Linked DNA regions of Homo sapiens: region 2 is linked to region 1. Evidence: fine-mapped expression QTL. A gene starts in region 1. The other region holds a variant in brackets. All regions are shown on one strand. Distances are from middle to middle. Region 1 holds the start of ELOF1 (elongation factor 1). Region 2 holds the start of ZNF653 (zinc finger protein 653).

Evidence for each region.
Region 2: its variant is fine-mapped to the expression of ELOF1 in esophagus mucosa (GTEx, PIP above 0.99).

The regions. Positions count from the first base shown.
Region 1 is chr19:11,554,223-11,563,997 of GRCh38, reverse strand. ELOF1 (elongation factor 1) reads left to right here and starts at 4,768. Exons shown (of 4, transcript NM_032377.4): 1 at 4,768-4,807; 2 at 9,633-9,766. The coding sequence starts at 9,651. RefSeq lists enhancers at 3,150-3,444, 9,373-9,572.
Region 2 is chr19:11,497,415-11,507,189 of GRCh38, reverse strand. ZNF653 (zinc finger protein 653) reads left to right here and starts at 1,351. Exons shown (of 9, transcript NM_138783.4): 1 at 1,351-1,702; 2 at 8,851-8,894. The coding sequence starts at 1,404. ECSIT (ECSIT signaling integrator) reads left to right here. Exons shown (of 8, transcript NM_016581.5): 8 at 762-1,261. The coding sequence ends at 1,006. RefSeq lists silencers at 1,156-1,205, 1,366-2,035 and an enhancer at 2,186-2,255. The variant T/C (reference allele first, on the strand shown) is at 5,539.

The DNA of each region.
Region 1 (9,775 bases):
GGTAGTAAATTATGAAAATGTGACAAGACAAAGGGGTTTGGGCTAGAGCAGTTAATGGTGGAAAAATAACTAGAAAAATAAGGGTTCATTTAACAAGGTTTGTTTGTACATTTTTTCCTCAGCTTTGACTCCCTGTCTTCTGGTGATAAGAATTGTACGCTCTAGGGCTGGGCGCGGTGGCTCAGGCCTGTAATCCCAGCACTTTGGGAGGCAGAAGCGGGTGGATCACTTGAGCTCAGGAGCTGGACACCAGCCTAGGCAACTTAGTGAAACCCTGTGTCTACCAAAAATACAAAAAAATTAGCTGGGCATGGTGGTGGGCGCCTGTGATCCCAGCTATTTTGGGGACAAGGCGAGAGGATCGCTTAAGACTAGGAGGTGGAGGTTGCAGTGAGGTTGCAGGAAGTGGATATCACACCACTTCGCTCCAGCCTGGGCAACAGGATGAGACCCTGTCTAAAAAGAATTTTACTTTCTTCCTGGGATGGGGAGGGCATCTTCCATATGGGGGTTTATCTCGTTTTCCAGAGAAAAGAGGGAGGTCAGAGTGCTTTTCCTGCACCTACTGTTTTTCAAGTGCACTTAGCTGAAACAATCCATATGCCAAAGTGGCATATTTTGGAGTGGTGTCATCTGCCACCCTCAAAATGAAAGAAATGGTTCATAACAGCTCTAATAATTGTTCAACAACCGGCAACAATGCAAAAAACAGGTCACTAACAGGTGAAAAGATAAACAAAGTGTGGGACATTCATATAACAGAATACAACTGAATAATAATCATGCCTATAATCCAAGCACTTTGAAAGGCCAAGGCAGGTGGATTGCTTGAGTCCAGGAGTTCGAGACCAGCCTGGGCAACATGGCAAAACCTTGTCTTTACAAAAAACACAAAAATTAACTGGGCGTGGTGGTGCACAGGTGTAATCCCCGCTACTCGGGAAGCTGAGGTGGGAGGACTGCTGGAGCCTGGGAAGTTGAGGCTACAGTGAACCATGATGGTGCCACTGCACTCCAGTCTGGGTGACAGAGTGAGACCCCATCTCAAAAGAAAACAAAAAAGAAACAAACTGCTGACATATCCAACAACACGAGTGAGTTCCTTTTTTTCTTTTTTTTTTTTTTTGAGACAGAGTCTGGCTCTGTTGCCCAGGCTGGAGTGCAATAGCGTGATCTCGGCTCACTGCAACCTCCGCCTCCTGGTTTCAAGTGATTCTCCTGGCTTGGCCTCCCAAGTAGCTGGGATTACAGGCGCACACCAACACATCCAGCTAATTTTTGTATTTTTAGTAGAAATGGGGTTTCACCATGTTGGCCAGGCTGGTCTTGAACTTCTGACCTCAAGCAATCCACCCGCCTTGGCCTCCCAAAATGCTGGGAACATGAGTGAGTTTCAAACATCTTATGCTGGGGAAAGAAGCCCAGCTCAAAAGGCTACACGTTGTATGATTCAGCTTATATGACTTTCTGAAAAAGACAAAGTTACAGGAACCAAAAACAAATCAGTTAGGGCCAGGGGCTGGAGTAGGGGACAGAGCACAAAAGGGCAAGAGAAAAATTTCTTTTTTTTCTTATTTTTTTTTTTTTAAGACTGAGTCTTGATCTGTCACCCAGGCTGGAGTGCAGTGGCACAATCTTGGCTCACTGCAGCCTCCGCCTCCCGGGTTCAAGTGATTCTCCAGCCTCAGCCTCGCTAGTAGCTGGGACTTCAGGCGTGTGCCACTATGTCTGGCTAATTTTTGTATTTGTAGTGGAGACTACAAGGGGTCTCACCGTGTTGCCCAGGCTGGTCTCAAACTCCTGTCTTCACGTGATTCGCACACCTCGGCCTCCCAAGGTGCTAGGATTACAGGCATGAGCCATCACACTCGGCTACTGGTAAGAGGAAATTTCTTAGGGTGATGGAAATAATTGTCTTGATTATGGTCATGTTTTAATGATATACCTGTATGTCAAAACATGCAATTTCGGCCAGGCATGGTTTAAATATGAGCAGTTCATGTTCAGTCAATTACATCCAACAAAGCTGGGAAGGAGGGAAGTAAGAGAGGGAAGGGATGAAAGGAGAGAAAAAGAGAAAACTAATGTGGCAATCATGAACAAAATGAAAGATATATACATCCTGTGACTCAATGTCTTTGTTTTTTTTTTTTTTTTGAGATGGAGTTTCACTCTTGTTGCCCAGGCTGGAGTGCAGTGGCGCGATCTCGGCTCACTGCAACCTCTGCCTCCCGGGGTTCAAGTGATTCTCCTGCCTCAGCCTCCTGAGTAGCTGGGATTACAGGTGCCTGCCACCATGCCCAGCTAATTTTTGTATTTTTAGTAGAGACAAGGTTTTACCATGTTGGTCAGGCTAGTCTTGAACTCCTGACCTCAGGTTATCCACCCGTCTTGGCCTCCCAAAGTGCTGGGATGGGCCAGGCGCCGTGGCTCACGCCTGTAATCCCAGCACTTTGGGAGGCCAAGGCAGGCAGATCACGAGGTCAGGAGTTCAAGACCAGCCTGGCCAACATGGTGAAACCCCATCTTTACTAAAAATACAAAAATTAGCCAGGCATGTTGGCGCACACCTGTAATCCTAGGTACTCAGGAGGCTGAGGCAGGAGAATTGCTTGAATCCAGGAGGTGGAGGTTATAGTGAGCCGAGATCACGCCACTGCACTCCAGCCTGGGCCACAGAGCAAGACTCTGTCTCAAAAAAAAAAAAAAAAAAGCAAAAACAAAAAAGTGCTGGGATTACAGGTGTGAGCCACCATACCCGGCCATCATTTATTGTTTTTTATTTTATTTTATTTTATTTTTAGAGACAGGATTTCACTATGTTGCCCATGCTAGCCTCAAACTCCTGGGCTCAAGCAGTCCTCCCACCTCGGCCTCCCAAAGTGCTGGGGTTACTGGGGTGAGACACTGTACTCACAAATGTCATTTTTTGAAAACTATGCTTCACTAAAGATCCAGTCTTAAGGATACTGATTCAGGGACATTTACTGCATCATCACAGTGGCAAAACTCAGGAAAGTCCAGGAATTGTCCATCAGTAGGATAACCGTTGATTATACTATGGCAGAGTTGCACTATGAATCATGTAGCTACTAAAAACAAAAGTTAGGTATACGTGTATAGATGGTTAAGTGGAAATAGCAAGTTGCACGGTAACTGTATAGTATGATTCCATCCTGTGTGTATTCTAGTTTGCTCCAGCACTGAAAAAGGGTCTCACAAGAGGGCAGTTCTACTGGTTACACTTGACGGTTACCAGGGTAACACTGCCCCCTAGGGGATATCCTAGAGATCCCTCTACAGACAGCCCCTGACTTGATTATGATAGGTTTATCGGGATGTAACCCCATCGTAAATCAAAGAGCATCTGTATTCGAAATACATTTCATTACAAATTATCTTCCTGAACACTCTAATGCAACAGCTCTTATCAAGGTCCGCAGGGACCAGACCCTTGCCAAACTCAACTGTCAATTCTCTTTCCTCATCTTCTTCAACTCAGGGACACGTGACACAGCTAACCCCTCTCTCTCTCCATCTTGAAATATCTTTTTCAGGCCAGGTGTGGTGGCTCATGCCTGTAATCCCAACAATTTGAGAGGCCGAGGTGGATGGATCACTTGAGGTCAGGAGTTCGAGACCAGCCTGACCAACATGGTGAAACCCCATCTCTACTAAAAATACAAAAATTAGCCAGGCATGGTAGTGCGCACCTGTAATCACAGCTACTTAAGAGGCTGAGGCAGGAGGATCGCTTGAACCCGGGAGGCTAAGGTTGCAGTGAGCCCATATGGCGTCACTGCACTCCAGCCTGGGCGACGGAGCGAAACCCTGTCTCAGAAAAAAACAAAACCAAAAATAAAAACCAATAAAAGTCCTTGGCCGGGCGCGGTGGCTCACGCCTGTAATCCCAGCACTTTGGGAGACCGAGGCGGGTGGATCGCGCCTGTAATCCCAGCACTTTGGGAGGCCGAGGCGGGTGGATCACGAGGTCAGGAGTTCAAGACCAGCCTGGCCAAGATGGTGAGACCCCATCCCTACTCAAAAAAAAAAAAAAAAAAAAAACTACAAAAATTAGCCGGGCGCGGTGACCGGCGCCTGTAATCCCAGCTACTCGGGAGGCTGAGGTAGGAGAATCACTTGAACCTGGGAGGCGGAGGTTGCAGTGGGCCGAAATCGAGCCACTGCACTCCAGCCTGGGCGACAAAGTGAGACTCCGTCTCAAAAAAATAAAATAAAATAAAACAAAAATAAAAAATAAAAATCCTTAACACGGCCCACGAGGCTCCATGGAATCTGGCCCCAGCCTGTCCACTCAACCTCATCTACTACAATCTGGGCACTCAAAATGTGGTCTGCGGATCAGCAGCATGGAAGTCACCTGGGAGCGAGTTAGAACAGCAGCCTCTCAGGCCTCCCTCTTCATCTGCTGGATCAGAACTTGAACTTTTTAGTTTGAGTAGAGCGTCTTCCATGCTTACAAGCTTCCCCTTCACCCTGATTCAGCCATAAGGTTATTTCATATTCCTCACTTGCCGCTCCTGGAAACTGACCAGAAGTACTGGCATCGCGCGTAGGTACAGGCAAATACGCACCGGCTCTTGCGCAGGCGCACTGCGTCTCCGTCGGAGCGCTGCTATTTGAGTACGCGTGCGCTCAGAGGAGCGGCGAAGGAGGCAGGGCCTATTTGCTGGGCTGTCCGGGATGGGGGTGGCCGGGACCTGAAAGTAGGAGAGGGGTTTCCGCTTCCGGCAGGAGTCGGAAGTCACTATCTCCCGGGTGAACGGAGCTTTCGCAGCTGGAGAAGGTGAGTGCTGGTGCGGCTCGTGCGAGTGGGCGTTGGGGGTGGGCAGGACTGGAAGTTCCTCTACTCCGTGCGTTTACGGGGTCCTGGAGGAGGCTCCTGGGACCTCGAGCTTGGGGGAAAGCCGGTCGGGGAGACTGACTCCCCCCGACCCCATCCTTCCAAGCGCGACTACCGGGACGCCTGGCTCCTCCCGGCGGCCGTCGGGAGGCGATGCCGAAGCTTTAGTGAGTCTGGAGGAACAGCCAACCCCCCACCTCTTGGGTACCAGCAGATTCGGGGGATGACTCCTCTGCCATCCCCTTTTGGCGCTCTTGGACTTAACGTTGTCACAGGACAGGCTGAGGCCTCTGCATTCCTTGTGCAAGCCAGACCCCATTCATGGGATGGGGAGACTGTAGTCCCTGGGCAAAATGAGCTTCTGGGGCTCATCCGTAGATTTTGTTTGGACTTTTTTTTTTTTTTTTGAGAGTGAGTCTTGCTGTGTCGCCGAGGCTGGAGTGCAGTGGCGCGATCATAGCTCATTGCAGCCTCGACCTCCTGGGCGCAAGCTTCCCACTTCAGCTTGCCGAGTAGCTGGGACTACAGACTCAAGGCTAATTTTTGTAATTTTGTAGAGATGAAGGGTCTCACTCTGTTTCCCAGGCTGGTCTGGAACTCCTGGCTTCAAGCGATCTTCCCACCTGGGCCTCCCAAAGTGATGAGATTACGGGCGTGACGTCCCAAAGTGATAGAGTTACAAGCAAACTGATTGAGTGATTTATTCAGTAATGGTTATTGCTGGGCACGGTGGCTCATGCTTGTAACGCCAGCACTTTGGGAGGCCGAGGCGGGAGTATCTCTTGAGCCCAGGAGTTCCAGACCAGGCTGGGCAACATGGTGGGTCCCTGTCTCTACAAAAAATACAAAAATTAGCTGGGCGTGGTGCCGCGGCTAATTTATATTTCAGAGGTAGAGGGGCAGGGGGAGGATCGCATAAGGAATGTGTGAGGGAAAAAGACATTGAGGATGAATCCAAGGTTTCTGATTTGATTATCCGGAAAGATGGAATTGCTGTTAGCTGAGATGAGGAAGACTGGAAGAGCAGGTTGCAATGTCAGGGGCTTGGTTTTGGACATGATATGTTTAATCTTAGGTGGAAGTTAGACATCAGGTGGAGGTGTGGCTGAGGCAGATAGATCAGAGTCTGCAGTTCAGACTCAAGGCTGGAGAAGCAGGTGGCCTCAGTGTAGAGTAGGCATGAAGCCCTAAGACTGGGTGAAATCTTCATGTGGTGAGTATAGCCAGAAAGGAGAGGATCCAACAATTAAACTCATGGGCTTTTTGCTCTGTTGCCCAGGCTGGAGTGCCTCGGCTCACTGCAACCTCCGCCTCCCAGGTTCAAGTGATTCTCCTGCCTCAGCCTCCCGAGTAGCTGGGATTACAGGCGTGCACCACCATGCCTGGCTAATTTTTGTATTTTTAGTAGAGATGGGGTTTCACCATGTTGGTCAGGCTGGTCTCGAACTCCTGACCTCGTGATCTGCCCACCTCGGCCTCCCAAAGTGCTGGGATTACAGGCGTGAACCACTGCACTCAGCCTTTTTTTTTTTTTTTTTTAGATGAAGTTTTGCTCTGTTGCCCAGGCTGGAGTGCGGTGGCACAATCTCAGCTCACTGAAACCTCCGACTCCCAGGTTCAAGCGATTCTCCTGCCTCAGCCTCTCTATTAGCTGGGATTACAGGCATGTGCCACCACGCCCAGCTAATTTTTGTATTTTTAGTAGAAATGGGGTTTCACCATGTTGGCCAGGCTGGTCTCCAACTCCTAACCTCAAGTGATCTGCCCACCTTGGCCTCCCAAAGTGCTGGGATTATAAACGTGAGCCACAGCGCCTGGCCCAAACTCACGTGCTCTCTTCATTGGAGCAAGTTGGCAGAGAGGCAGGAGCATAGGAGACTAGCAGGAGCCACCAGTGAGGCAGAGGACAGGGAGCACATGGCATCCTGAGAGCCACATGTGCTCTCAGGGGAGGAAGGACCTCTGGAATGGGAGGACTGCCATTGGGATTTGCAGTATGGAGCCACCAGTAACCTAAGTTTGGAGGCAAGGGGTGCAGAGAGATGGGTGGGAATGCAGATGGCTGTACACTAAAACAGCCTGCAGAGAAAAGGATCATAGCTGGAAGAGGATGAAGAGTTTTTTTTTCCCCCTTTTTAAATGAGGAGAGAGGTAATAACAAGTGTGTGAGAGTGATCCAGTGGAGCTGGAAAATTTGATGTTGCTCAAAGAAAAGGGGATGGGAGCCAGGGCAGAATGAACAAATTGTTTTTGCAGGAACTTACTTCCATAGTAAAGGAGGCATGCCGAAGCTGGGCATGGTGGTGCACACCTGTTGTCCCAGCTACTGAGCAGGCTGAGGCCAGAGGATTGAGGCTTTAGCAAGCTGTGATCATGCCACTGCACTCCAGCCTGGGCAACAGAGCAAGACCTCATCTCTTAGATAAATAAAGAGGGTGGGTGAATGGCTGAATGAGTTGGTCCTAGGAGCTGTCTTTGGATTGCTTCTATTTACTCAGTGAACTGGAAGCATCACAGTTAAGAGTTGGGGGTGTTGGCTGGGCGTGGTGGCTCACGCCTGTAATCCCAGCACTTTGGGAGGCCGAGACAGGCGGATCACGAGGTCAGGAGATCGAGACCATCCTGGCTAACACGGTGAAACCCCATCTCTACTAAAAATACAAAAAATTAGCCACGCGTGGTAGTGCATGCCTGTACTCCCAGCTACTCGGGAGGCTGAGGCAGGAGAATCATTTGAAGCCGGGAGGTGGAGGTTGCAGTGGGTCGAGATCATGCCACTGCACTCCAGCCTGGGCGGCAGAGCAAGACTCCATCTCAAAAAAAAAAGAAAGAGTTGGGGGTATTACATAGGAAGTGATCAGCAGATAATGAATGAAACTCCACTGTTTATTCTGGAAGACACTGGCAGGCTGCTGACCTCCCCGTCACAGTGGAACGATGCTAGAACCAGCAGTCGTGTGTGTGTGTGTTGGAGGAGGCGCCATAGGAGGCTCAGGGATGGCAAACACAGTGCCCTGAGCACCGTGCCTCGCAGGGGAGTTGGGCTCAGTGGTAACTGCTGCCGTTTCCCCACCCACCTGCCTCCTGGACATCTGTTCCTAGATATCCCTCTGCCACCCAACCCCATCATTTTCTCCAAAACCCTGTCCTTCCTATGTGTTAGACATCAGAGAATGATGCCACCTTGTCCCTCTAGCCACTATGTCCCCGCCACAACCTTGGGAGTCATCCTGGACTTTCCTTCTCTCGTCACACTCACTCACTCTGCCGCCATGTCTCCTCTGTCTCTCTCACCCTCTGCCATCTCTACCCCAACAGCCCTGTCCTGGCTGTGACTTTGTCTTCATCCAGATTATGGCTCACACCGCAGTTCCTCAAAAGCACAGGGTGACTTTGTCCTTTCACTCCTTGTAGCTCCCAGGATCCATCCAAACACCCAGAACCCTCCCACCTGTCCCTCCTCTCTCCCTCACCTGCCAGGGGACGGACAGCTGCCCTGAGCCTTCACACAGTGTTCCTCTACTCAGAAGTGCCTGTCCCCACTTCTCTGCCCTGCAGTCTGTCATCTGGATCGAGGCCATCAGATAACCTGAGTGTCACTCCTCCTGGATGGTACTTACATGTCCTTTGCCAAGAGGAGCAGCCAGAATAAAATCACCAGTTCCTAGGCTCTTAGGCTCCACCCGGCCCTGAACAGCTGGCTTGTCTTGGAGTCTCTTGTGCCACCCTCCCCAGGAACAGTGGCTTCCTTGTATTGGCGCCAGCGATGATGGGCCAGCTCTGTGCTAAGTACTTAACTTACCATTCCTGGTGTCAGCCCCACAAGTCTCCTCTGAGATAGCAACCTTATTTCGACTTTTTTTTTTTTTTTTTTTTTGAGACGGAGTCTTGCTCTGTTGCCCAGGCTGGAGTGCAATGGTGCGATCTCGGCTCACTGCAGTCTCCGCCTCTTGGGTTCAGGTGAGTCTCCTGCCTCAGCCTCCTGAGTAGCTGGGGTTACGGGTGCCTGCCACTATGGCCAGCTAATTTTTGTATTTTTAGTAGAGATGGGGTTTCACCGTGTTGGTCAGGCTGGTCTCGAACTCCTGACCTCGTGATCCGCCCGCCTCAGCCTCCCAAAGTCCTGGGATTACAAGTGTGAGCCACCACACCTGGCCTTTTTTTTTTCTTTTTTTTTTTTTATGCAGGGTTTCATCCTGTTGCCTAGGCTGGAGTGCAGTGCCTGGATCATAACTCTGGATCATCACTGAAACCTGAAACTCCTGGGCTCAAGCGATCCTCCCATCTCAGCCTCCCAAGTAGCTGGGACTACAGGCCTGCACCACCATGCCTGGCTAATTTTTAATTTTTTTTTTTTAGAGATGAGGCCTCACTATGTTGCCCAGGCTGGTATCCAGGTCCTGGCATCAAGTAATCCTCTCACCTTAGCTTCCCAAAGTGCTGGCTGGGATCACAGGTGTGAGCCACCATGCCTGGCCTTGTCTCTGTTTTATAGACGAGGAAACTGTGGCACAAAGAGCTTAAATAACCTGCCCAGGTCACGCAGTAAGTGAGAGAGATGGGGTTAGAGCCTCGTCTCACCCCTTCCATCCAGAGTGGGACAGGGAATTGTCCTCCTGCATCAGGACTGAGGGCCTCGTCCCTCAAGGGCAGAGGCCCCGGGACCACGGTGCAAGTCCCAGACCCTCTTTCCGGCCTGCTTTCTAGAGCATTGAGCTGGGGCGCTGCGTGGTTTCCTCAAACCACTGACATCTGCCACTCCCCACAGGCTCATCCACCTGCAGACATGGGGCGCAGAAAGTCAAAACGAAAGCCGCCTCCCAAGAAGAAGATGACAGGCACCCTCGAGACCCAGTTCACCTGCCCCTTCTGCAACCACGAGAAATCCTGTGATGTGAAAATGTGAGTGGG
Region 2 (9,775 bases), 57 kb after region 1:
GACGCAGTCCACTTACACCCTCGTCCTCCGGCCGCACACACTCATTTGCCCCAGGGGCTCCAGACCTGAGGTCACCCAGCCCTGTTGGCCCTTGTTCATTCCCTCCCTCCTACAACTCTGTGCTGGCTACTGGGTGTCACCAGGACAAACCTAGTCCCTCGAGTCAGCAAGGGAACAGGCAAATTACACTTTGGGGAGCTTAGGAGAGGAGCATGCCTTGAGTGGGGGGTCAGGAGGCCTTCCTGGCAGAATACAGAAAAACCAGGAGTCATCGCCCGGGTGAAGTGTGGAGTGGGCAGCCTAGGCAGCGGGGCTAGCTTGTGCAAAGGTTTGGAGGCACAAGAAAGTGGAAGGAAGCCGGGCACAGTGGCTCACGCCTGTAATCCCAGCACTCTGGGAGGCTGAGGCGGGTAGATCATTTGAGGTCAGGAATTCGAGACCAGCCTGGCCAACATGGTGAAACCCCATCTCTACTAAAAATTTAAAAATTAGCCCGGCGTGGTGCTGTGCACCTGTAATCCCAGCTCCTCGGGAGGCCGAGGCAGGAGAATCACTTGAACCTGGGAGGCGGATGTTGCAGTGAGCCGAGATCTCGCCACTGCACTCCAGCCTGGGTGACACAGCGAGACTCCGTCTCAAAAAAAAAAAAAAAAAAAAAAAGGAAGTGGAAGGGAGTGTAAAATACCTCAAAAAGGTGTAGGCATGGGTTAGCCGCTGCAGCCCCCACTGTGCAAACCTTAAGGGTGCATGTCTTCCAACAGTGGAGGAAGGCCCTGTCTTCGCCATGTGCATGGCGGGTGCTCATGACCAGGCGACGATGGCTAAGTGGATCCAGGGCCTGCAGGAGACCAACCCAACCCTGGCCCAGATCCCCGTGGTCTTCCGCCTCGCCGGGTCCACCCGGGAGCTCCAGACATCCTCTGCAGGGCTGGAGGAGCCGCCCCTGCCCGAGGACCACCAGGAAGAAGACGACAACCTGCAGCGACAGCAGCAGGGCCAGAGCTAGTCTGAGCCGGCGCGAGGGCACGGGCTGTGGCCCGAGGAGGCGGTGGACTGAAGGCATGAGATGCCCTTTGAGTGTACAGCAAATCAATGTTTTCCTGCTTGGGGCTCTCTTCCCTCATCTCTAGCAGTATGGCATCCCCTCCCCAGGATCTCGGGCTGCCAGCGATGGGCAGGCGAGACCCCTCCAGAATCTGCAGGCGCCTCTGGTTCTCCGAATTCAAATAAAAAGGGGCGGGAGCGCTGTTGGTTGTGCGCATGCGCAGTTTCCATTCTTGGTCTCCTTTTGGCGCCCTGGGGCAGCGAGAGACCGTGAGAAATTTCTCGGCGGCGCCGAAGATGCGCGCCACTTCCGGTCTGGCTCCTAACAACGGGGGAGGCTGGTAACCAGGGTGGGGGGGATGGCGGAGCGGGCGCTAGAGCCCGAGGCGGAGGCGGAGGCTGAGGCGGGCGCGGGCGGGGAGGCAGCAGCCGAGGAGGGCGCAGCGGGCCGAAAGGCGCGGGGCCGGCCGCGACTCACGGAGTCGGACCGGGCCCGGCGACGGCTCGAGTCCCGGAAGAAGTACGACGTGCGGCGCGTGTACCTGGGCGAGGCGCACGGGCCCTGGGTGGACCTGCGGCGCCGCAGCGGCTGGAGCGACGCCAAGCTCGCCGCCTACCTCATCTCTCTGGAGCGCGGCCAGCGGAGCGGCCGCCACGGGTGAGGGGGCCTGGCCCCGAGGGAGGGAGGGAGGAGACGCCCCCAGACCCCGCCGGGCTTTACCCCGCCCCCTCCGCTTCTAGGGCCAGCCCCCGGCACCTGCGGACCCCGCCCAGGAGCCGGGCCGGCGGCCTGGGTCTCGTACTGCCTGGCCGGGACGCGCCTGGCTCGTGGCCCCGCCTCCCATCGTTCCGACTGCCCAATCCTAGGGTGCACCCAGCCCCTCGACCCGCCTTCTGAGCGCTTGGCCCCGCCCGCTAGAACTCTGGCGGCCCAATCCTGGGACTGGCCCCACCTCCAGGCCTTGTAACTAACCAGGCCCTGGGGGGGCAGCCCCGCCCCCTCACCGGTCTCATCCTCCCCCGCTTAGTTCCCCACCTGGCCTGGGACTCTGGACACCCTGGGGCACTCAGCCCTGCCCTTCTTGAAGTTCTGGTGCCCCATCTGGGACTCCGTATGGCCCCATTCCCACAACCCTAGATCCAACACATCCGGGGGACCCTTCACAACCTGGACTGCACTCCCCTAAACCTATTTCTGTGAAGCAACTCAGCCCAGGGAGACTCGGATGAAGAGGAAACCCCTAGTTAGCTTGGCAGGTGGAGGGCAGAGAGGCCTGTCTTTGTAAATTCTCAGTCTTGAGAAGGAGCAGTGTGGATGGAGTTTTTCCCTTCCTGCCTTATATGTTGATGTGATGATTGAGTTAAAATAGGCAAAGAGCTTAGAAGAGTGCCTGGCAGGTAGTGGGTTCCCTAAGTATTAACTTTTACGAGGATGACGTTTATTCCGTATCACAAGCAGTGCCGCAAGGAAATCCTTGTTCTGCCCTGGTTTTCAGGTACACATGTTCTCATGTTTCTCTGGGGGGAGATTCTGAGAGTCAAGAATCAAACAGATCCTGCTAAGTTATACCCACCCCTTTCCCAGGACAGCAGGCTGGCTTATATGCTCAAGAGCAGGACTGGAAATGCTGGGAGCGCAAAGATACCTGCCTCATGGAGCGGACATTCTGGTGGGCAGAGGGGATGGCTTGTTCAAAGGTCTGGGGGGTTTTTTTGTTCGTTTTTCTTTTCTTTTCTTTTTTTTTGAGACAGAGTCTTGCTCTGTCGCCCAGGCTGGAGTGCAGTGGCACGATCTCCGTTCACTGCAAGCTCCGCCTCCCGGGTTCACGCCATTCTCCTGCCTCAGCCTCCCAAGTAGCTGGGACTGCAGCCGCCCGCCACCACGCCCGGCTAATTTTTTGTATTTTTAGTAGAGACAGGGTTTTACTCTGTTAGCCAGGATGGCCTCGATCTCCTGACCTCGTGATCCACCCGCCTCGGCCTCCCAAAGTGCTGGGATTACAGGCGTGAGCCACCGCGCCCGGCCCTCGTTTTTCTTTTTGAGACAGGGTCTCACTCTCTCGCCCAGAGTGGAATGCAGTGGCATGATCACGGCTTACTGCAGCCTCAACCTCGTGGGTTCAAGTGATCCTCTTACCTCCGCCTCCTGAGTAGTTGGGACCACAGGTGCACGTCACTCCACCTGGCTAATTTTTGTATTTTTTGTAGAGACAGAGGTTTCCCTGTGTTGCCCAGGCTGATTTCAAACTCCTAGGCTCAAGTGATTCTCCGGCCTCAGCCTCTCAAAGTGCTGGGATTACAGGTGTAAGCCATTGTGCCCAGCCCTGTTTGTTTGTTCTTGAGACAGGGTCTCACTTTGTCACCCAGGCCAGAGTACAGTGGCATGTTCATAGCTCACAGCAGCCTCAACCTCCCAGGCTCAAGGGATCCTCCTGCCTCAGTCTCCCAAGTAGCTGGGACTACAGAGGAGCCACCTCACCTGGCTAATTTTTTAATTTTTCATGGAGATGGGGGTCTCGCCATGTTGCCCAGGCTGGTCACGAACTCCTCGGCTCAAGGGATCCTCCGTCCTCAGCCTCCCGAAGTGCTGGGATTAAAGTCATGAGCCACCATACCTGGCAAAAGGCTTGTTTACTGCAGACCAGAAACATAAGTAAATTGTATCGTCCATGAGAGATAGGGGCTACGGAAAAAACAAAAGTGAAATGAAGAGTGTGAGTTGGAAGTTTAAATAGGGAGTTAAGGTGGTCACATTCAGAAGATAGCATTTCAGTAAAGACATGAAGGAACCTAGGAGGAGCCATGCAGATCTCTGGGGAAGAGTTGAGGCAGAGGGAATAGCAAAGGCAAAGGTCCTGAGGCAGGACCCTGCCTATTGTGTGCCAGGAACACTGAAGAGGCTTGTGTGGCTGGACTGCAATGAGTGAGGGGGAGAAGGGAAGACAAGGACAGATTGGTGACAGGGAAGGTCATCCAGAGCCATGGAGAGGACTCCAGTTTTTCCTCCCAGTGAGGTGGGAGCCTTTTCTTAAGTGCAAGATTTTGTACAGAGAAAGAAGTGGTATGGTCTGCCTTTATTTCCCCTGATGCCCCCCCCACCTTTTTTTTTTTTGAGATGGAGTCTTGCTCTGTTACCCAGGCTGGAGTACATTGGCGCAGCCTCAGCTCACTGCAACCTCTGCCTCCCGCGTTCAAGCGATTCTCCTGCCTCAGCCTCCCGAGTAGCTGGGATTACAGGCGTGCACCCCCATGCCCGGCTAATTTTTGTATTTTTAGTAGAGACGGGGTTTCGCCATGTTGGCTAGGCTGGTCTCGAACTCCTGACCTCAAGAGGTCTGCCTGCCTCGGCCTCCCAAAGTGCTGGGATTACAGGTGTGAGCCACTGCGCCCGGCGGGGTTGCAGATTTAAATGTAAAGATGAAACCATACCCGGGCCTGGGCCTGGCCTTTTATTTCCTTATTTATTTGTTTATTTATTTTTGAGATGCAGTCTTGCTATATTGCCCAGGCTGGTCTTGAACTCCTGGACTCAAGAGATCCTCCCACCTCAGCCTCCAGAGTAGCTGGGACTACAAGTCACACACAGCCTGGTTTGTATTTTAGAAGAAACTGTCTCTAGGATGTGTGTGGCTTGAAGAATGGATGGGGTACACATTGTGATACAAGGTTGGCCAAGAGTTAACAATTGTTAAAGCTGATGATGAGTCCAAGGAGGTTCATGACTCTTGTCAACAATTAAAATAAAAAAAAGGAAGACCAGGCATGGTAGCTCACGCCTGTAATCCCAGCACTTTGGGAGGCCAAGGCAGGTGGATCTCTTGAGGTCAGGAATTTGAGACCAGCCTGACCAATAGGCCAAAACCCTGTCTCTACTAAAAATGCAAAAATTAGCCGGGCATGGTGGCGCACGCCTGTAGTCGCAGCTGCTTGGGAGGCTGAGGCAGGAGAATCACTGGAACCCGGGAGGTGGAGGTTGCAGTGAGCCGAGATCGCGCCACTGTACTCCAGCCTGGGCAATAGAGCAAGACTGTCTCAAAAAGTAAAATAAAAATAGGCCAGGCGCGATGGCTCACGCCTATAATCCCAGCACTTTGGGAGGCCAAGGTGAGCAAATCACGAAGTAAGGAGTTCGAGACCAGCCTGGCCAGCATATTGAAACCCCGTCTCTACTAAAAATACAAAAATTAGCTGGGCGTGGTGGCACACGCCTATAGTCCCAGCTACGCAGGAGGCTGAGGCAGGAGAATCACTTGAACCCAGGAGGCAGAGTTTGCAGTGAGCCAAGATCGTGCCACCGCACTCCAGCCTGGGCAACAGAGCGAGGCTCTATCTCAAAAGAAAAAAAAAAGTTACTAAAGGGATACTTTTAGACAGAAAACACAGGCCTGAGTGTGGCGGTTGCTCTCCTTGGTAAGGGAGGTGAGGGAGAAGCAGCAGCCCGGTGCCAGTGGAGCACTGGGCAGTGGCAGCACCCAGGAGGCCAAAGGAAGTGTC[T/C]GCCATGTCCAGTGCTGTTGGGCCGAGTGAAGCCGTCACTGGTGACTGTGATGGGAGAGTGTGTGACGTGATGGAGCAAAGCTCTGACTGGAGGAGTTCCAGTGAGATGGAGGAGAGGACATGGAGACAGCGAGTGTAGACAACTGTGACAAAACGGGGAAATGAAGAAGGAGGCTGGGTGCTAGTGGCTCACACCTGTAATCCCAGCACTTTGGGAGGCTGAAGCAGAAGGATCTCTTGAGCCCAGGAGTTTGAGACCAGCTTGGGCAACATGGCGAAACTCGATCTCTACAAAAAGTACAAAAGTTAGCCGGGTGTGGTGGTGCATGCCTGTGGTCCCAGCTACTCAGGAGGCTGAGGCAAGAGGATCGGTTGAGCCCTGGAGGTCGAAGCTTCAGTGAGCTGTGATGGCGCCACTGCACTCCAGCTGGGGCAACACCACGAGAGCCTGTCTCAAAAAGAAAAAAAAAAAAAAAGATATGGGGAAGGGGCTGGTGGGGAAGGTGGGTATCAAAATGATTTTAACCCAAGATGGGAGAAATCATGGCATATTTAGATGCTGGTGGGAATGACTGAAGACTGAAAGGAAATGGCGGGAAACAGCCAAGCCAGGGCCTGAGTAGCCCCGGAGCTGTGGTCCTTGATGCCAGTGGCCTCTGCTGGGAGTCACAGAGAAGTGGCAGAAGTTGGAGAAGTGGACAGGAGAGGGAAGGCAGTTTGAGGGAGAAAGCCCTGTGTGGGGGTTGGAAAGTGGCGCTCACCAGGTTACATATGACCTTGTTTGGTCCCCATGGTGACCCTGTGTCAGAAGCACTACTACTATTTCCACTTCACAGACGGAGACTGAGGCTCAGAGGGGACAAGACCTGCTTGAGGTCACACAGGCAGTTGAGAGCAGAGCTGAGTCTTGAACTTGGGTCTGGCTGATACCCAAGACTGTCCCCACTGCAATGTGACACTCCCAGCCTCCAGCGGTGAGTGGATGGAGGTGGCTGTGGACATCAGGACTTGGGTTTGGGGCAGGGCATGGTGGCTTACACTTGTAATCCCAGCACTTTGGGAGGCTGAGGCAGGCAGATCACTTGAGGTCAGGAGTTCGAGACCAGTCTGGCCAACATAGCGAAATCCTGTCTCTACTAAAAATAGAAAAATTAGCTGGGCTGATGGCAGGCATCTATAATCCCAGCTACTCAGGAGGCTGAGGCAGAAGAATCGCTTGAACCCAGGAGGCAGAGGTTGCAGTGAACTGAGATAGTGCTACTCCACTCCAACCTGGGTGACAGAGCCAGACTTGGGTCTTGGGTTGGGTGAAGGTCTCTACAGCCAGTGTGGTGCTTTGCAGGGGAGGGTGGAGCCATGGGAAGGGATAGAGTCACATGGAATGGGACCTGGAGTAGCAGAGCCAGAGGCAGGGGCAGAGCCTGGGGCAGGAAAGATGGAAGATCCCCAAGGTGCAGTCCTGGGAACCAGACGGGTGTGGGACTGAGAATTGTTACAGGGCTGGGCAGGAGTCAGACGGGGTGGACAGTTTTGCTGATAAGAGACACTAGACTGGCTGTCAGGATGTTTGTGGCAAGAGCAGGTCTGGGCCACAGCAGGGAGGCCAGGGGGCCCAGGCTCCACGATGATACTGATAATCATAACGATCATTGTACCATTTGCTTATTGATGATTAAGTGACAGGGCTGTACCATGACGAAGATCGTTTTTTGTTTGTTTTTGTTTGTTTCTTTGTTTTTGAGACACGGTTTTACTCTGTTGCCCAGGTTGGAGTGCAGTGGTGTGATCATAGCTCACTGCAGCCTTGACCTCCCCAGGCTCAGGTGATCCTCCCACCTTAACCTCCTGAGTAGCTGGGACTACAGGTGCATGCCACCCCGCCTGGGTAATTTCTGTATTTTTTGTGGAGATGGGGTTTCACTGTGTTTCCCAGGCTGGTCTCCAACTTCTGGCCTCAAGCGATGCACCCGTCTTAACCTCCTAACGTGCTGAGATTACAGGAATGAGCCACGGAGCCTGGCCTTTTTTTTTTTTTTTTTTAATTGTATAAATAGAGGTGGGATCTTGCTATGTTGCCCAGGCTGGTCTTGAACCCCTGGCTTCAAGCAGTCCTCCTGCCTCAGCCTCCCAAAGTGCTAGAATTACAGGTGTGAGACACCACACCCAGACAGTACCCACTGTCTTGCTGGCTGTGGGCCAAGACCACTCTCAGCCTCTCAAGTAGCTGGGACTACAGGCTTGAGCCACTGTGCCCTACAAGATATGTTCCCGTTTGATTAACTCACAGTCACCTAACCAAGGCTTGACATCCAGTCCTACTCACAGGCCTGCCCCGCTCAGGGGAAGAGGATCACACAGGGCATGTGTCCCAGCAGAACTGTGGGGGCCATCTTGGAATTCTGCTTCCACACAAACTTTTCATACCCACTTTGTTACTTCTCTGCTCCCTGACTGTGGGACCCAGGGCAGATGGCCTCACCCCTCCAAGCCTGTTTTTCCTGCTCCTTGAGGTGGATGATGCTAGAGCCCCCTCCCAGGGCTGATGGCAATTGGGGAGAGAGTCCAAGGGAGGGGCCTGGTGACACAGTTCTGGAGTTGGGGAAAGGTACATAGAAGTTCAGATTCTAGGCTGGGCACGGTGGCTCACGCCTGTAATCCCAACACTTTGGGAGGCCGAGGTGGGCGGATCACCTGAGGTCAGAAGCTTGAGACCAGGATGGCCAACATGGTGAAACCCCGTCTCTACTAAAAATACAAAATTAGTCTGTAATCCCAGCTATTCAGGAGTCTGAGGCAGGAGAATCACTTGAACCTGGGAGGCGGAGGTTGCAGTGAACCGAGATCGCACCACTGCACTCCAGCCTAGGCAACAGAGACAGACATTGTCTCAAAAAGAAAAAAAAGTTCAGGGCAGGCGTGGCGGCTCATGCCTGTAATACCAGCACTTTGGGAGGCTGAGGTGGGCGGATCACCTGAGGTCAGGAGTTCGAGACCAGCCTGGCCAACATGGTGAAACTCCGTCTCTACTAAACATACAAAAATTAGCCAGGTGTGGTGGCGTGCACCTGTAATCCCAGCTACTTGAGAGGCTGAGGCAGGAGAATCGCTGGAACCTGGGAGGCAAAGGCTGCAATGAGTCAAGATCTCACCACTGCACTCTAGCCTGGGCAACACAGTGAGACTCCATCTCAAAAAGTTCAGATTTAGTTTCAGTGTACAATGAGCAGTGGCTCTAGCCACTGTTGTTACTCATGGGTCAGACAGGCCCAGCGCTGGTCCCCCGTTCACCCTCTCTGCCTCTTTCTGTTGCAGGAAGCCTTGGGAGCAGGTCCCCAAAAAGCCAAAGCGGAAGAAAAGTAAGTGGAGGCTCAGCCTGGGGGAGGTGGGGAGAGTTGGGAGCGGTGGGAATATGGAGATGGAGGCCCAGAGAGGCCAGGTCGCTGCCCTAGGCAGCACAGTTGGAACCAGCAGAGCCCGACCTCAAACCCGGGTCTGCGTGTCTTGTGTCTCAGGCGCAGTGTCCTTGGCTCCCTCATTCTCTTGCTCCCGGCATGGGAGTCAGCCAGGGGAGAGCCGAGCAGAGGGAACAGCTTTTGCAGAGCCCTAAGGGCAGGGGGAGCCAAGCACTGGTGGTTAGAGGGGAGGTCTGGAGCTTGCTCCTCCTGTCCTGCTGGCCACCAGTTGGTGAGAGCTTGAACTGTCAGGGTCTGCACAGCTCTGAGCCCTGGAGCTGGGGGTCCCAGGCCATGTCCAGCAGGGTGAAGGCCAGCTGGTGGCAGTGAGCCCCTCCCTTCTTAGGTTTCTCCAGAGGCAGGGGTGAGCTATGACCTTGATCCTGAATCCTCAAGGGATGAGGAGCGCATTGAGGAGGGAAAGGGCTGGGCCGGAGAGGCGGCTGTGGGTGACGACTCTGTTGCCCTCATGATTGGAGACTGTGAGCACATTCCCTAGACCCAAACACCTCTTCTGGGCCCCTCTTCATCTCCCGGCCCACAGGGTAGGAGTGGGGGACATGCTGTCCTCGCACTTGGCTGAGGGACCAGGACCATCACAAGAGTCAGATACCATTTCCCAGCACTCACTGTGTGCCCAGCCTTGTTCTGTGTCCTGGCGATGTCTTCACTCCCTTCCTCCTGCCTGGCAGCCCTCCGGGATGGGAATCCCTTATTCTCCCCAGCCTAGAGGAGGCACCTGGGGCTCAGAGAAGCCAAGTCACTTGCCTGGAGCTACCCAGCTT